Linked DNA regions of Homo sapiens. The protein of the gene in region 3 interacts with the protein of the main gene of each other region in a pairwise test. Each region holds a gene or a part of one and is shown on either strand. Other genes may lie near its edges.

Region 1 (3,750 bases), on a different chromosome or scaffold from region 3:
CTGGGTGACAAAGTGAGACCCAGTCTTTTAAAAAAAAAAAAAAAAAAGTTTATATGTTTGTTAGGGTCATTTGCCAAAAACATTTGTTGTTTTAAGCATTGTCATAGAATCCTGGCTTCAAAGGCTGCTATAGGGTGGGAGAAGATAATTGTGGAGCGTGGGATATTGATCATACTGATGGGAGATTTGGAGTGGGGTCTCAGGGCACTGCTCCAGTGAGATTCAGTTTGTGAAACGTACTTGGTATTGCCAGCATTTCCATCAACTCACAGTTGCCCTGAGAACAGATCCAGCCTAGAAGAGTTATTTAAAGGACAGGGCAAGGGAAAGCAGCTGGGGGCTTAAAGAATTCACCTCTTAGCTCCCCTGTTTGCCTAATTTCTCTGCCTTTCTTTATTCCCAACTTAGAGAGTAGAAAGAGTGGTTTCTAAGTCTTGGTGTGCCTGAAGCATGCCTGGGGTGCTGTTAAAAGGCAGGTTTCTGGGCTCATCTCCATAACTGGATCTGAGGGTAAAGTAAGGATGTTTTGGTCACACTGCCTTTCTTGGGCCTCTCTTTTCAGAGTCCTATCTTACTCCTTTTTGTATCTGATTCTCACACCAACTTTGTTAGGTCAACACCTTCCATTATTACTATTATGAATATGAAGATAAGGAGGGTAGCTGTGGTAGGCAGCCTCTAAGATGGCCTGATGATATCTGCCTCCAGATATTCACGCCCTTAGGCAGTCCTCCTCCTTGAGTATGAATTGGACCTAGTACCTCACTTCTTGTGATTAGAATATGGTAAAAGTGATGGAACGTCACCTCTGAGACCAGGTTACAGAGGTGGCGGCTCCCATTCCTGCGATCTCGGGCTTTCTGTCTCCTGCATCGCCGGCTGCTTTGTTGGGAGCACTCTCAGGCAGCCCGCAGAGAATCCCCATCACGAGAAACCGAGGCACCATGACCTGCTTGGAATTCGCTTAGAAGTGTATTCTCCAGCTCTGGTTGGGCCCAGCTTGACTGCAACTCCATGAAAGATCTGGAGACACAAGCACTCAGCTAAACCATTCCAGAACTCCTGGCCCACAAAAGTGTGAGATAAGTGTTGTAAGTCATTTGGTCTCAGAATAATTTGTTTCCAACAATAGATAACTAAGTGTGTGGCAAAAGCAGGAGAAGCCGCAGATTAAAAAAGAACTTGGCCACTTTGGCCACCCTTCTGCCTGGGGCTGGAGTTTGATGCCCTTTCTGAAAGATTAAAATGGACACTAGATGTGTCTTTTCTTTTGTCTTTAAATCATTTCAGTTTTTAACTCGTCACTGCAGCTGCCTTTTGTAACTACTGCAGATCCCCACATTTCTCCTCTGTGGAGCTCCCCAGGCCAGCAGTGCCCACACTCCCTGCCCACCGAGGGTCAGTGAGCAGTACGGCTTCTGGCCCAGTGCCAGCCACGCCCGTGTGCCTTGTGGCCAAGCACTTCTTCACATCACAAGCTGGCTCGATGTCTTGGGTGTGATGTCTGCGAGCTTATTATGAACTTTGAGCTCACAGAAAACAGTGTTCTAGGAAACACTGTTTTGAGATGTGGGGGAGTGGGGAAGTTGTGGGCAAGGTGCCTGCAAAGACCAACTCACATCAGCCCCTTCTGAGAAAGAAAGAAAAATTGCCTCATAGACCAAACAAGGGTTTGGGTGGCTGCTGTCCGTGTCTGGGGAGTTGCCCTGGCAGAAGCTGGGAAACAGATGAGCGGTCATCATCAGGAAGATTTCTGCCTTTCCTTACAGCACCTTTTACTCCCAGAAACATTGTCTTCCCTGGTGCCCGGGACTCCATCCAGCTTGCCAGGCTTCTAGAATCTCCTCACCCCACACAGCACCCCTTCAGGCCATAGACAGGTCAAGCACCACTCTTCCACTCAAATTGATCAGTTTGGTGTCCTGTTAGCTAGGTACTTGTTTTCTCTTAGTCACCAGTGACTCCCCTAAAGTAGTTATCCTCCCTTCTTTAAGGTTTCACTGGCAGTATAATGTCAAAAAAACAGAACAGTCAAGGTCTAACACAAATTACTCACTTATTTTATCCATACATTTAGAAAAACTAACATCTCTGGAGACCATCACTTCTTAGAATAATGGACATTTTAGTATCAAAAGGAAAAGTGCACACACGTGCGAACACAGACACAGGATCACTTCAGACCCCAAATGTATAAAGGGCATAAACTCAGAATAAAGGATAACTTTCTAAATTGAATAAATATGTGAAAAACTCAATGTCCCAATTTTACTATTTTCCCCTCTCCTTGGTGTGGGGTCTTGGTTTGGTGTCTAACTCCAAACCAAGAAGTCTAACTCCAACTTGGAAGTCTTTTCTAACTCCTGTTCAGAGGTAGAAATCCATCCATGCTATAGCCAAGCTAGTTATGTGTCACTCTCCCCAGATAATATGGGTTAATGTGGCTAAAACGTGCCTATCTTCAAAAGGCCCTTAAGAAATGGGGCCTTTTGAAGATAGGCTGGGCGCGGTGGCTCACGCCTGTAATCCTAGCACTTTGGGAGGCCGAGGCAGGTGGATCACGAGGTCAGGAGATCGAGACCATCCTGACTAACACAGTGAAACCCCGTCTCTACTAAAAATACAAAAAGAAATTAGCCGGGCGTGGTGGCAGACACCTGTAGTCCCAGCTACTCGGGAGGCTGAGGCAGGAGAATGGCGTGAACCCGGGAGCAGAGGTTGCAGTGAGCTGAGATCGTGCCACCACACTCCAGCCTGGGAGACAGAGTGAGACTCCATCTCAAAAAAAAAAAAAAAAAAAAAAGGATGTAGTGGTGGGCATTTATGGCAGAGTAATGAGGAAGTTTGGCCTTTCTGTAAATTTCTGGAAAAAAAAACAAAAAGGATATGTTGCAGCAAACTTACAGAATCAGCTCTGGTCACCCAGAGCCATTTTTCCAAAGCCACAAGTTTTTAAGGCTTTCCCCACTCACCACAGCCCATCAACTGCAAAAGCAGCCGGTATCAGACATTCCTCATCTTAAAACCACAACCTGGAGCGCCTGGCTTGGGCAACAAGCCTGGTCTTTGGGTTAAGGCAGCTCTCAAAACTGAGCCAGTTTCAAGCCATGTTTTTAAATATAAATCACTAGCCATGTGCCAGTTATTATGATGACCAAATTCAGTAGGAATGCATTTCACTCAAGGCACTGATTCAAAACGAAACCCTGACATCGGAAATGCCAGGGGATGAACTGGAGGTGACGATGTAAACTTCAAAACATTAGACATGAGGAAGCGACAGCGGCTTTGCTTCCCGCGCAGCCCGGGCCCCACAGTTCTTCACATCTGTTCCTTTGTCCTCTTCAGAGATGACCTTAGGAGCTATTCTGAGAAGGGGTGCTTCTCACTTTTGCTTTCTTCCAGTGCCCCCTGGTGGAAACCTGTTCCCAATCAGCCCAGCTGTTGCCACCCAGGAACCTCTGGGGGTGGAAGGAATGTCAATAGGAGCCTCTCCTAGAGGACAGAGGGGCGCAAATCCTTCCAAGGAAAAAACACAAATACCAAAGATGGGAGGGCCAACTGCCTATCCCATGACAGATGTGCCGGTTTCTAAAGGTCACAGAGATTACATCTGATGCGATGCCCTTTTTCTGATTTGCTGGCCTGAGGCTCATCATTAGAGATATTTACTGAGGAATGAGAAGTAGATGAAAAGAACAGCGCAGATGTAAGCCTGGGAGAGGAAGCTCAGCTCCTTCAGTGATAATC
Region 2 (2,988 bases), about 82 Mb from region 3:
GAAATGGGCAGTAGTGGGAGATTCAGGTATAAACGGTGGCTCTGTTTCTCTGGTGCCTGAGATTCGGGAAGGCCTGTCTTGGGAAGATAAGTGTCAGCTTATCTGTGGACTGAACAGACAGGCACCTGTTCTGTTGGCCCCGGAACTGCGGGCATGAAAAGCCCACCTCCCCAGGGGAGGCCTGTTAGCTAGCAGCTCCTCACGCCTGGTGACTGAGAAATGGAGTCTGGGGGGCCTACAGCAGGCCACGCGATCCACTGGGCTTCTGGGCACAGAAGTGCCTCAACAGGCACAGGCAGGCTCCCCACAGCCACAAGGAACCCTGCTGCCAAGGAAGCAGCTCCTGTTGGGGTCATCAGATTTTTAATCTGGCTCAGCAAAGCCATGGCTGTCCAGCCTTAAAAAAATGGGTGATGTGGGAGAAATGGAGGGTGTGTGAAGAGCACAGCTGGGCCTCGAGAACTCAGGGCCAGCCTTCCCAGCTTGGGTCCTGTTTCGGAGCCCAGGCCTTGCTTCCCCTTAGCCGCCCCAGCCAGATTCTTTTGCGCCCCCTGCTGGCACACACAAAGACAGACCCAGGAGCGCACATGTGAACGTGCGCATGCTTGCTGCCAGTTACCCAGTTCATGAACACGTGAAGCCTTGACTTCAGGTTAAGTAATAAAAATTTATTGAGAATTCCTGGGTTGGTGTTTATCTCCTCCCAGCCTTGAGGGAGGGAACAACACTGTAGGAAATCACTGAGAAATCACGCACTGTCCCCAACAGCCCCAGTTAACACAGGGAGGAGGAAAGTAATTCCCCAGAAAAGGGGCTAGTCTTCAGTCTTCCTTAATCCAAGAGGGGTTCAGGGAACCGGTGTGGGGGACCATCGCATGATACTGGGGCGGGGTAGGGCTGTGCTGGACCCCTGGCTGGCTCCTCAAAAACTGGAGAAGCAGATCCACTTCCTCTGGGGGTGGAGTTCTTGGTGACTAGGCTCATTTCTTACCCTTGATGAGGCTGTCACTGTAGGAAAAAAAAGATAGATAATGACATTATTAGGGGACATAAATGTGAGAGGCAGGACACTCTAGGCCATTCCCTCTACGACCCTCCTACCCTGATTGAGGGTTTGTCTTCGGGGAGGTGGGAAAGGGGGTAGGGTAGGAGGCGGGTACTGGAGAAGGTGGCCTGCAGGACCCCACAGAAGCAACAACAGCTTACCTTCCCCTGTGGTGCCAGATCGCCAGATGAACAAGAAACAGAGAAGAGAAATGCACATGTTAATTGACAGCTTCAGGCCCCACTCAGCTTTGAACCCTCCTTTGCTCCCAAGAGAAAAGATAAACAGGGTTGACAGCCAGGAATCTCAGGCTCATGAAAGGAGGAGGCATGTTCTCATGGCCACTGCTATTTCTCATCTCCTTTCCTAACATCCCTCCATTCACCAGAGGAGTTTGAGGGCTCTTGAGTAAGAAAACTGAGTATCATCTTTCATCACTTTTTGGTTAGATGAAAACTTTATAATTAAAGTGCTTTTTATGTGAATAATCCTATTTGATCTCATAAAATCAATCCTATGAGATGCAAGATAGAAACTGTCAACCACCCCCTTTTCTAATTTTGGTTCAATGTCTCTGAGCCATATGAATAGCTGTAGCAGGCTCCAGAGCCCAAACAACCAGACTCAGGTCCCACGTTCTTGGTGATACCCCACAGTGTGGCCACATCTCTCACCTGGTGAAACTTTCATCCTGTAGGTTCAGCACAAGGTTGTCAGCTGTGAGATAGATACGATTCTGTGATGTGGCGATCTACAGGGCAGGAAATAAGACAGATGCTTGCATTAAGCAAAGACCTCAATTCCGACCCCTGCAATTCAGCAGCTACTTAACATGGAACACATGCAGATTAGGGCAGGGGTGCAGCAATGAGTAACACATGGTTTCTGCTCGCACTTAGGGATCCAGAGCGCTGAGCAGCAGCTATGATTAGAACAAAAGGTCAGGGAACCCAGAGGAATCATTCTTGACAGGAGGAGTATCGGAGAAGCCAATTTTTTATTTATTTATTTTTGAGACGGAGTCTTGCTCTGTTGCTCAGGCTGGAGTGCAGTGGCATGATCTCAGCTCACTGCAACTTCCGCCTCCTGGGTTCAAGTGATTCTCCTGCCTCAGCCTCCTGCGTAGCTGGGAATATAGCTAAACGCCACCACAGCGGGCTCATTATCTTTTGTATTTTTAGTAGAGATGGGGTTTCACCATGTTGGCCAGGCTGGTCTCGAACTCCTGACCTCAGGTGATCCACCCACCTTGGCCTCCCAAAGTGCGGGGATTACATGCGTGAGCCACCGCGCCGGCCAGAGAAGCCAATCTGAGTAGAAACCGGAACAAGCAAGGTTCGAATTCCCTCACCTCAATGTGCCTTAACTGAAAGCACTTTCTCAAGGCAGCCCCATCAGAGACGCTGGGCTGACACACTCACCGTCTTGGAGATATTCTGGGCTGCTCGAATCTTGCGAAGTTTGATGTAGCCAGGGTTCTTGCTCAGTGCTTCTCCAAGGTGAGGAGGGTTAAGGTACACGCAAGGGCAGGTCTCAATCCCTGGCCCTGTCCTTACCACACTCCCTTGCTCCAGTCCTCCTCTGGGCTGTCAGATCCAAGGTTGCGCTCAGGTGGCTTGTGCCCAGCCCTACCGTGGACCCCACCTGTGGGCCTCCCTGCAGGCTGCTGCCAGGAACTAGGGGCAGCACCAGAAATGAAGGCAAGGCCACCAATGCTATTGATCTGGCCTTACAGTGGGGAGTCATGGCTCAGGTACTACCACTAAGATTTCAGATCTCATCTGTAGTCCCCACCCCCAACAAGGAGCCAAGGGCCAGAGAGCACGGAGTCGCATTCGCCTTAGTCTCATCAGCCTGCCCATGAAGGAGAATGGGGAACTCAGGTGCCCTAGGGGCTGGGCTGAGATCTCTCCAGCAGAAGGATATCATCTTGGCAGCCTCGG
Region 3 (3,750 bases):
GCCTCTCAGGCAGCGGTGGGACAAAGCGCGGCCTCTTTTCCGCCGGGGTTTAGGGAGGGAAGGCCGGATTAGGGCCCGCGCCTTCCGGCTGCATCCCTCTCGCGCCGCGCCGGCCGCACACAGGTGGTTTTCCGCTCGGGAGGGGCAGGCTTCGGCACTTTTATATAACAATAGAGCTCTGCGCGCCGGGAACGCGCCTCCCCGCCGCCGCGGCCCCCACCCGGCCACGCCTCCATCCGGCTTCCAATCCGTCCGCCCCGCGGCGCCTGGGCCGAGTGCTGCTCGCTGGCCTGGCCCGCACCTCCCCAAAGTTACCTGCTGGCTTTGCAGCGCGGTAGAGACGTTCCCCTCGACTCCTTGGGAGCGAGGAGCCAGGGGGGTCCCGGCAGGCACTCGTCCTTGCTCCCCCCACCCTCCCCAGATCTCTATGGACCCGGGAGTCCCTCGCTGAGCCCCGCACCCGTCCACTGCGTCGCGCACAGCCCCGTGCCCAAGCGGGGAGACGGGGACGGCGGGGCGGTGGCAGGGAGCGCAGCGCGCAGGCGCGGCTGGTGCTCCCCGGAGTGCCCGGCGCTGGACAAAGGGAGGAGGCGGCGGCAGGAGAGGGCTGGGGAGGCCCCCTCTGACATGCCTCCCTGCCAACTGTAACCAATCGTCGAGCCCCCCTGCCGAGCCCCCGCAGCCTGCAGGTCTTGCGGGAGGACTTCCTCACGCCTCGCCCATGGCGGGGACTGCTGGCCCGGCCCGGCGCGTCCCAGCACACCTCGCTCAGGCAGCCCCGCCAGACCGGCTCCCCCGTCAGAAGCCGAGCTCCTTGCCCAGAAATCATTAACCAGCGCGACCTCCCAGCAGGCGATGGTGGTGGTGGGGCGGGGGGAGAGATATAGATTCCCCCGAACAATGGCTTGTAACTCCCCACGCCGCCGGAGCGGAATACAGTAAAAGCACTGGACTGACCTAAGAGTTTGTTTCTGCACTCTACATTGTTTTAATGAAAATAAAATGTTATTTTAAGAAAAAAGGTTTTCTTCTGATTTTCTGCACAACCAGACGTTTGTTTGTTTGCTTTAAAATGTTTCAACAAAATCCTGGTTTGTTTCGAAATATGTTGGATTAGCATTTAACACCTCATCGGTCACTAAAGCCCAGTCAGTTCACCAGCCCCAACACAGCCTCGGCTAAAAGAACATCAGAGCAAACAGAGCTGGGCCTTTAAAAGTGGCAAACAAATGCCACACACCGCCTAAAGAAGGGGGGTTGGGGGAGGGGAGGGTTAAGGCGAACTTGGGTCCAAATGAGTTTGAAGGGAATACAAAGAACGAAAAGTCAGCACAAGTTTTCCTAAAGCTAGCTCGCGAACGCAAGCGTCGCGAACAAGGGCTTTTGTGCATGCTAATTGCGCCATTGGTGCGCAAAAGTTCCGACGCGAAGTGTGAACTCTCAACAGAAGGAAACATGAGACAACTGAAGTGCCCTGGTTTATGTGCCCTGCTCCTCCTCCGCTGCCGCCTCCCCTTCTTTCTCCTTCCTCCCGCCGAGCCCGCTGTTGCAGCTTGTTTGCACTGGGGCTTATCCGGAGCGGAAATTCCTTTCCGTTTTTGTGAATGACAAACTCATTAACAATTCATCAACACAACCTGTTCCAGCCGGCCCGTCCCCACGGCAACAGCCCCTTCCGCAGCACGCTCATTGGCTGGCCCGGAGAATGTATCCATTGAGACGCTCGCTGTTTGTATCCATTGAGGAGCTGCCTCGCGCAGGGGGTGTGCGAGGCTGAGTCCAAGAGATAGCAAATCGAGTCTTAAATAATCCGGGGAGAAAGACGCCCGGGTAGATTTGAGGTGCAGCCTTGGAGGGAGGGATTAGAAGCCGCTAGACTTTTTTTCCTCCCCTCTCAGTAGCACGGAGTCCGAATTAATTGGATTTCATTCACTGGGGAGGAACAAAAACTATCTGGGCAGCTTCATTGAGAGAGATTCATTGACACTAAGAGCCAGCGGCTGCAGCTGGGTGCAGAGAGAACCTCCGGCTTTACTTCTGTCTCGTCTGCCCCAACCGCTAGCCTCGGCTTGGGTAAGGCGAGGCGGAATTAAACCCCGCTCCGAGAGCGGCAGCTTCGCGCGCGGTGCGCTCGGCCTATGCCTGCCCCGAGGGGCGTCTGGTAGGCACCCCGCCCTCTCCCGCAGCTCGACCCCCATGATAGATACGCTCAGACCCGTGCCCTTCGCGTCGGAAATGGCGATCAGCAAGACGGTGGCGTGGCTCAACGAGCAGCTGGAGCTGGGCAACGAGCGGCTGCTGCTGATGGACTGCCGGCCGCAGGAGCTATACGAGTCGTCGCACATCGAGTCGGCCATCAACGTGGCCATCCCGGGCATCATGCTGCGGCGCCTGCAGAAGGGTAACCTGCCGGTGCGCGCGCTCTTCACGCGCGGCGAGGACCGGGACCGCTTCACCCGGCGCTGTGGCACCGACACAGTGGTGCTCTACGACGAGAGCAGCAGCGACTGGAACGAGAATACGGGCGGCGAGTCGGTGCTCGGGCTGCTGCTCAAGAAGCTCAAGGACGAGGGCTGCCGGGCGTTCTACCTGGAAGGTACGCGCCCAGGGAACTCCGCGCGCGGGGCAGGGCTAGGGGCGCAGGGCTGCGGGCGGGGCGCGTGGATTGAAAATACCTCTGCTCCGCTCAGCTGGAGCTTCGGAGCCGCGCTGCCCGCCTAGGGACCGGCAGCCGGCGAGGTAGGGGCCGCGAACCGCGCGTTCCGCACCAGAGAACCGGGCCGGCTCAGAATCCACTCGCTTCCGGCTGCGGGTACCGGCGGTTTCTTTCTAACGGGTTCTGCGCCTTCTTAGCCAGAACATCCTCCACCATCACCCTGTTTTCTATCGTTCGATTTTGAATTAAGATTTGCAGGACGGGAGAGATTGTTGGGGATGCAAATTGGCACATCTTAGCTCTCAAAATATTCCAAAAAGTTGCCATTTTGTCTATTTCCGGATTCAAGCGAATAAGGGTTCCCTGGCGAGGCGGGCCCGTTCGTTCCATTCCCGATGGTGCACATTTAAAGTGTGTTTCTCTTATAGATGGTTCTGTATGTAGGGGGTTCGTAGGATGCTTGTGGTGTTTCTTGCGCCGGGCTGCGGTTCTTACAAGCTGTGAAAACTACTACGGCTTCTCAGGTTAGATGATTGCTTTTCTCGTTCTGGCAGGTGGCTTCAGTAAGTTCCAAGCCGAGTTCTCCCTGCATTGCGAGACCAATCTAGACGGCTCGTGTAGCAGCAGCTCGCCGCCGTTGCCAGTGCTGGGGCTCGGGGGCCTGCGGATCAGCTCTGACTCTTCCTCGGACATCGAGTCTGACCTTGACCGAGACCCCAATAGTGCAACAGACTCGGATGGTAGTCCGCTGTCCAACAGCCAGCCTTCCTTCCCAGTGGAGATCTTGCCCTTCCTCTACTTGGGCTGTGCCAAAGACTCCACCAACTTGGACGTGTTGGAGGAATTCGGCATCAAGTACATCTTGAACGTCACCCCCAATTTGCCGAATCTCTTTGAGAACGCAGGAGAGTTTAAATACAAGCAAATCCCCATCTCGGATCACTGGAGCCAAAACCTGTCCCAGTTTTTCCCTGAGGCCATTTCTTTCATAGGTGAGACTAATTAATAGTCGTCGCTCTGACATTTAAATGCAAAATTCCTAGCCATTCATAGAGTTTAAGCTGTTAATCGTTCTTGCTGCTTGCTAATTTGTC

What was found.
Region 1: the proteins of DUSP6 (region 3) and TXK interact in binary tests that used the Homo sapiens proteins (3 or more experiments, as listed by UniProt).
Region 2: the proteins of DUSP6 (region 3) and PHB2 interact in binary tests that used the Homo sapiens proteins (3 or more experiments, as listed by UniProt).

The regions. Positions count from the first base shown.
Region 1 is NC_000004.12:48,127,615-48,131,364, reverse strand, and holds part of TXK (tyrosine-protein kinase TXK), read left to right. Parts: intron 1-3,750. UniProt on the Homo sapiens protein: Non-receptor tyrosine kinase that plays a redundant role with ITK in regulation of the adaptive immune response. Regulates the development, function and differentiation of conventional T-cells and nonconventional NKT-cells.
Region 2 is NC_000012.12:6,964,705-6,967,692, forward strand, and holds the end of PHB2 (prohibitin-2), read right to left. Parts: coding exon 2,972-2,988; intron 2,903-2,971; exon of another isoform or gene 2,633-2,902; intron 2,632-2,632; coding exon of another isoform or gene 2,579-2,631; exon of another isoform or gene 2,545-2,578; coding exon 2,467-2,544; intron 1,797-2,466; coding exon 1,720-1,796; intron 1,213-1,719; coding exon 1,207-1,212; intron 1,009-1,206; coding exon 981-1,008; 3' UTR 623-980; downstream 1-622.
Region 3 is NC_000012.12:89,350,486-89,354,235, reverse strand, and holds the start of DUSP6 (dual specificity protein phosphatase 6), read left to right. Parts: upstream 1-1,734; 5' UTR 1,735-2,196; coding exon 2,197-2,596; intron 2,597-3,210; coding exon 3,211-3,648; intron 3,649-3,750. UniProt on the Homo sapiens protein: Dual specificity protein phosphatase, which mediates dephosphorylation and inactivation of MAP kinases. Has a specificity for the ERK family. Plays an important role in alleviating chronic postoperative pain.